Linked DNA regions of Homo sapiens. The main gene of each other region encodes a partner of the protein of the gene in region 2 in a complex. Each region holds a gene or a part of one and is shown on either strand. Other genes may lie near its edges. A codon is read from its position in the direction of its gene.

Evidence for each region.
Region 1: the proteins of NASP (region 2) and H4C15 are in contact, whole or in part, in a crystal structure (PDB 7V6Q), measured with the Homo sapiens proteins. Residues at the interface, in NP_002473.2 of Homo sapiens: Glu563, Gln566, Ser567, Leu569, Asn570, Glu573, His587, Leu590, Tyr594, Gln599, Glu602, Gln606, Lys609; in NP_001029249.1 of Homo sapiens: Arg96 (codon at 1,805), Thr97 (codon at 1,808), Leu98 (codon at 1,811), Tyr99 (codon at 1,814), Gly100 (codon at 1,817), Gly102 (codon at 1,823), Gly103 (codon at 1,826).

Annotation. Positions count from the first base shown.
Region 1 is NC_000001.11:149,860,264-149,862,650, reverse strand, and holds H4C15 (histone H4), read left to right. Parts: upstream 1-1,491; 5' UTR 1,492-1,519; coding exon 1,520-1,831; 3' UTR 1,832-1,887; downstream 1,888-2,387. UniProt on the Homo sapiens protein: Core component of nucleosome. Nucleosomes wrap and compact DNA into chromatin, limiting DNA accessibility to the cellular machineries which require DNA as a template.
Region 2 is NC_000001.11:45,590,030-45,594,794, reverse strand, and holds part of NASP (nuclear autoantigenic sperm protein), read right to left. Parts: intron 3,573-4,765; coding exon 3,525-3,572; intron 1-3,524. UniProt on the Homo sapiens protein: Component of the histone chaperone network. Binds and stabilizes histone H3-H4 not bound to chromatin to maintain a soluble reservoir and modulate degradation by chaperone-mediated autophagy.

The DNA.
Region 1 (2,387 bases), about 100 Mb from region 2:
GGGAGATTTTGAGTTTTGGGCTTAAAATGACTGAAGAACCACCAGGTGGATCTACGTGTCTCGAGTCCAGAAGTCTGAATACAGATTTACGATTTATGAGCACACAGAAGGTGGATCCAAGGGAGAGATTAAACAGGGCACAGAAGAGTTTTTAAAAATAATATTTTTCGGGAAAAAAACCCCAACAAAACACGATTCTTTCAGCAGAAACCAGAAGATTTTCTCATAGACTCTCCTACAGAGAGCCCTGATAAAGTAATAAACATGCTAACAGTAAGAACCCCAACCAATTTCATAGGGCAGTTTGCGGTAACTACTCCCAGTATGGAGCAGACAGTCCTCTTGCAAAACCCGATTTAGCAAACTTTGCTAGCTCCATGTGGGGCCTCCAAAGGACACAGCTGGGCACTAAATCCTGGCTGAAAACAAAGGCCGATTTAGAGGATCCGTAGAAACGGATGCACAGAATATCCCTCAGTCTTCTCTATGTAGCAGGCCCTCCATATACGCGGGTTCCCCAAGACCGAAAATATTAAACAAATGAATTTCTTTTTTAAAAAAAAGTACAACAAAAGATAGTAAAAATAAAAACAGTATAACAATTACTTACATAGCATTTACACTGGATTAGGTGTTACGAAGTAATTTAGAGACTATTTAAAGTACACGGGAGGATGTGCATAGTTATGTGCAAATACTACGCCACTTTCTATGAGAGACTTGAGCAACCTGGATTTTGGTATCGGCGGGGGCCCTGGACCAATCCCCTCTCAGTTCTACCGAGGGAGAACTGTTTTGTTTCTTCCAGCACGGCTTTGACCGACAGTGTGTTGGGATTCGCTGACGTCCATGAGAAAGCTTGGCAGCATGCTGAGACCAATTTTCCCAGGGCCAGAATTCTCCTGTGTGAGCTAAAATACAGTGGCTCGGTCCAACAAAACAGAGCCTGGAGCCAGGAATTATGGCGAACCTGCTCCCTCCCGTCCTCCCTTGGCGCACAGATCCCTGGCGCCGCCGCTCTTGAGGTCGCCTCTCGCGTGTCGACCTCATCGTCGGAACGGCGCTTCCTGAAGCTTTATATAAGCACGGCTCTGAATCCGCTCGTCGGGATTAAATCCTGCGCTGGCGCGCTCCTGCCAGTCTCTGGCCTCCATTTGCTCTTCCTGAGGCTCCCTCCAGAGACCTTTCCCTTAGCCTCAGTGCAATGCCTTCCGGGCGTCCTCAGACCAGACACAGGCCAAAGCCACTACAGAATCCGGAAGCCCCGGTTGGGATCTGAATTCTCCCGGGGACTGTGGCGTAGCGGTTAAAAAAAAAAAAGAGTGAGAGGGACCTGAGCAGAGTGGAGGAGGAGGGAGAGGAAAACAGAAAAGAAATGACGAAATGTCGAGAGGGCGGGGACAATTGAGAACGCTTCCCGCCGGCGCGCTTTCGGTTTTCAATCTGGTCCGATACTCTTGTATATCAGGGGAAGACGGTGCTCGCCTTGACAGAAGCTGTCTATCGGGCTCCAGCGGTCATGTCCGGCAGAGGAAAGGGCGGAAAAGGCTTAGGCAAAGGGGGCGCTAAGCGCCACCGCAAGGTCTTGAGAGACAACATTCAGGGCATCACCAAGCCTGCCATTCGGCGTCTAGCTCGGCGTGGCGGCGTTAAGCGGATCTCTGGCCTCATTTACGAGGAGACCCGCGGTGTGCTGAAGGTGTTCCTGGAGAATGTGATTCGGGACGCAGTCACCTACACCGAGCACGCCAAGCGCAAGACCGTCACAGCCATGGATGTGGTGTACGCGCTCAAGCGCCAGGGGCGCACCCTGTACGGCTTCGGAGGCTAGGCCGCCGCTCCAGCTTTGCACGTTTCGATCCCAAAGGCCCTTTTTAGGGCCGACCACTTGCTCATCTGAGGAGTTGGACACTTGACTGCGTAAAGTGCAACAGTAACGATGTTGGAAGGTAACTTTGGCAGTGGGGCGACAATCGGATCTGAAGTTAACGGAAAGCTACCGCGGCCCATAGCGCTCACAGCCGTAAAGACTTAAGTCGTTGACCGAAAGCGGCTTTTTCACTTACCTGGGCTTTTTTTTTTTTTTTTTTTTTTTTTAAAGCCTTTATCGGTATGAAAGGTTGAATGCTCTAGGTTTGAGCACTGCTTTCTCGGCTTGCTCTTCTGGTGCAGTATAGGCACACCTAGAGGGCCACGTCAGTCTTTGCGATCACCAAATCTGGTTCTGAGAAATAGGCACTGGCAATTTACACATGCCTTGCTGTGTAATCTCACTATATTTGCTCAGGCAAAGTGGGAGAAGCAGCCTTAGGTTTTCATTCTAGAGATGCCGGCTTTCCCACCTGATCGGCTTAGAGTTCACGATTGACTGTTTTGGGCTTCATTTC
Region 2 (4,765 bases):
GCCAAGCATAGTGGCTCACACCTGTAATCCCAGCACTTCAGGTGGCTGAGGTGAGAAGATGGCTTGAGCCCCAGCCTGGGCAACGTGACGAAACCTCATCTCTAAAAACAAAATACAAAAATTAGCCAGGCATAGTGGCACACATCTGTGATCCTAGCTACCCAGGAGTCTAAGGCAGGAGGATCACCTGAGCCCAGGGAAGGTCAAGGCTGCAGTGAGCCACGATCGCTCCACTGTACTCCAACCTGGGCAGTGAAGTTTAATACTGATGATTACATATCAAGCACTGTGTTTTGGATAGCCTAGCTACATTTAGTCAGTCCAGAAACTTAAATACTATGGTACATCCTATGAGTAACCCCCTTGAAAGTATTGTGTTTAGGATCAACCCTAAACAGTATTCAGTATTCATACCACCCAAATACCAGATTAACTCACAAGAAATTTTGTTGTTGTTTGTTTTTTTTTTTTGAGAGTTTCGCTCGTCACCCAGGATGGAGTGCAGTAGCGTGATCTTGGCTGACTGCAACTTCCACCTCCCGGGTTCAAGTGATTCTTCTGCCTCAGCCTCCCAAGTAGCTGGAATTACAGGCGCTAGCCACCACGACCGGCTAATTTTTGTATCTTTTTTAGTAGAGACGGGGTTTCACCATGTTGGCCAGGCTGATCTTGAACTCCTGACCTCAGGTGATTCACCCACCTCAGCCTCCCAAAGTGCGTGAGCCACCGCGCCTAGCCCTATTTTGTTTCTTTCCTTTTTTTTTTGGAGACAGGGTCTCACTCTGTCACCCAGACTAGAGTGCAGTGGCAGGATCATAGCTCACCACCACCTCGACTTCCTGGGCTTCCGCAATCCTCCTACCTCAGCCTCCCCAGTATCTGGGACCACACGCAAGTGCCACAACGAACAGTTAATTAAAAAAAAAATTTTTTTTTTTTGTACAGATGGCGTCTTGCTATGTTGCCCAGGCTGGTCTCGAACTCCTGGGGTCATGTGATCCTCTCAGAGATGGAGGTCTTGCTTGGCCTCCCAAAGTGTTGGGATTACTGGTGTAAGCTACCACACCCAGCCAAGCAGTATTTCATAAGACTTATTTTAACCCTTTTCCCGTTTAAGAGAAAAAAAAAAAAGTACAGCTCATTGCCAGCACTCATTTAATTTTACATAAACATGTTCTTTGAAGCTGAAGCAAATCTGACTTTCAGCATGAAAATAAAAATATAAAACTGTTCTCGGAGTTTTTTTTTTTTTTTTTTTTGGGGGGGGACAGTCTCACTCTGTCACCCAGGCTGGAGTGCAGTGGCACAATCTTGGCTCAATGCAACCTCCACCTCCCAGGTTCAAGTGATTCTCTTGCCTCAGCCTCCCGAGTAGCTGGGATTATAGGCGCCCGCCACCACGCTCAACTAATTTTTGTATTTTTAGTAGAGAGAGGGTTTCACCATGTTGGCCAGGCTGGTCTTGAACTCCTGACCTCAAGTGATCAGCCCACTTCAGTCTCCCAAAGTGCTGGGATTACAGACATGAGCCACCTGCCTGGCCGGAGTTATTTCTAAACACAACTAATATCAGAATCGCCTATTTCATAAAAATTGGATTCATCAAATGAATCTTTGGCCAACAACCATTTGAGAATGATGTTAACATCATACATAGGAATGCTACGTTTTCTAGGATTTGACATTTACAGCAATCGAGAATTACCCTATTTTGTAAATGGAAATAACCATTACTAAAAACAGAGTGCTATAAACAGAATGATGTCTTTTTATCCAAAATCTATATATTAGAGTGATGTGAAAATAATAATAAAGGAGAGCTATTTCATGGCAGTTTTCACTGGGTAAATGCAGCAGCCCCAAGCACCACCAGCAAGTATTCTCAGGGCAAATGGGAAAAGGGTTAAATAACCAAGATGACAACAGGATTTCAAACATGAAAAACATAAAACCCTATGGACGCTTAAAAAATGTATTTGTGGCCGGGTGTGGTGGCTCACGCCTGTAATCCCAGCACTCTGGGAGGCCAAGACGGGCAGATCGCCCGAGGTCAGGAGTTCGAGACCAGCCTGACCAACATGGCGAAACCCTGTCTCTACTAAAAATACAAAAATTAGCCGGGCATGGTGGTGGGTGCCTGTAATCCCAACTACTTGGGAGGCTGAGGCAGGAGAATCGCTTGAACCCGGGAGGCAGAGGTTGCAGTGAGCCAAGATCATGCCATTGCACTCCAGCCTGGGTGACAGAGTGAGACTCCATCTCAAAAAACAAACAAACAAAATATTTGTAAGATATTCTAACAGTAATAATTCTCAATCTTATCAGAAAGCTTTTCCATAACACATGAACCCAAATTTTATCTCAAGCTCAACAAATAAAATCAGCTGGGCATGGTAGATCAGGCTGGTAATCCCAACACTTAGGGAAGCCAAGGCAGGGGGATTGCTTGAGCCCAGGTTGGAGACCACCCTGGCCAACAAAGCAAGACTCCGCTTCGAAAAATATAATTCGGGTGGGCACAGTGGCTCACGCCTGTAATCCCAACACTTTGGGAGGCCAAGGCGGGCAGATCACCTGAGGTCGGGAGTTCAAGACCAACCTGGCCAACATGGTGAAACCCCATCTCTACTAAAAATAGAAAAATTAGCTGGGTGTAGTGGCACCCGCCTGTAATCCCAGCTACTTGTGAGACTGAGGCAGAATTGCTTGAACCCAGGAGGCAGATGTTGCAGTGAGCCAAGATTGCGCCACTGCACTCCAGCCTGGGCGACAAGAGTGAAACTCAGTCTAAAAAATAAATAAAATAATTAGCCAGATGTGGTGGTGCATGCCTACAGTCCCAGCTACTCAGGAGGCTGAGGCAGAAGAATCCCTTTAGCCCGGGAGTTCGAGGTGGTGGTGAGCTATGATAACATCACTGAACTCCAGCTTGGGCAACAGAGCAAGACCCTGTCTCTAAAAAATGAAACAAGAAATCTCTAGGGATGTAACCTACCATCTACCTTTTGGGTAAGCTTTTTAGTTAATTATTATGCCCACCTCTGATTAAGAAACATAGTCACTACGGGTGTAGATCTGAGATAAAGAAAAACAAAAAACCATAGCCATATCAAGATGGAAACGTTACAGGGGGAGGAGGTGAGACGGGCCTGGTAGTTCACACCTATAATCCTACACTTTGAAAGGCTTAGGCAGGGAGGAATGCTTGAGGCTAGGAGTTTGAGACCAGCCTTGGCAACATAGCAAGACCCCATCTCTCCAAAAAATTTAAAAATGAGCGAAGTGTAGTGGCATGTGCCTATAGTCCTAGCTACTCAGGAGGTTGAAGTGGGAAGATTGCTTGAGCCCAGGAGTTCAAGGTTGTAGTGAGCCCTGATTGCACACTGCACTTCGGCCTGAGCAACAAAGCGACACCTTGCCTCTATCAAAAATAAATTAATTAAAAAATAAAAATAACTTTAAAGTTATATTGCTCTTAGTTTATGTTTCTGATACGAATCTAACTACCATGTAAATAATCTTACCTCTCCACTTTATCTGCAGATGTAGAAGGAGCAGGAACATCTTCAATTCTGTAATAAAAAATTAAAGGGGAAAAAATGTAAAACTGGAGGCAATTATTAAGCCTGAAAATAAAATAAATTCAGAAAAATATAAAGGAATAAAAGAGCTGTCATTTATTAAATACTCAAGTATTATTTACTTACTTACATTATCAAATTTAATTCATTTAATTCTTACTCACTCAAATATCCAGGGCTGAAAATAAGTGGCAACTTCACAGCTATAACCACAGGGATGAGGAACAACTTAAAGGGCAGTGCTTTCAGCTACAGGTTGTAAGCTATCTGGGCCATTTGCCTAGAATCTTGAAATGGTCTTGGATCCTTATCTACAAACTCCGTCACAGCCAGTCATGTATATCGAATAGTTTTATTAAGAGGTCATTCTGACCAAATGGTCTAGCACAGAGCCTCTCAAACTACCTGTGGTTAAGGGACTAGGTCTTTTATTTCCCTATATAACCTTCTATAACACACAGGTTTTTTTAAATACAATGTCAGGGAGATATCACAGCGAGACTCCGTCTCAAAAAAAAAAAAAAAAAAAAAGTTACACTATGACTGCAATATAAGACTCTGAATTGAATACCATTAAAAGCAAGGAACCAGTAAAAACACTATTAAGTATCATTGTAAAGCATTTATCAGTGATAAATTTCTTTTCTTTTTTTTTTTTTTTTTTGAGACAGAGTCTTGCTCTGTCGCCCAGGCTGGAGTGCCCTGGCACGATCTCCGGCTCACTGCAAGCTCCGCCTCCCGGGTTCACGCCATTCTCCTGCCTCAGCCTGGGCCTGGTGCCAGGCCGGTGCCTGTGCACCGGCCACCATGCCCGGCTAATTTTTTTGTATTTTTAGTAGAGACAGGGTTTCACCGTGTTAGCCAGGATGGTCTCGTCTCCTGACCTCGTGATCCACCTGCCTCGGCCTCCCAAAGTGCTGGGAATACAGGCGTGAGCCACCGCGCCCGGCCGATAAATTTATTTCTATTCTTGCTTAGCACAAGCCTAGACAAATAGAAAAGAGGGTGAACTAAGGCAGTACTTGTATAGTTGGAAAAAAAGATGAATTAAAGCAGTGTTTCTCAAATTTTAGTCTGTATGCAAACCATTTGGAGGAACGGTTATAACAGTTTGAGCTCCACCCCCTACAGTTTCTGAGTCAGAAGGTTTGAGGTAAGGTTGAAGAATCTGCATTTCTAACAAC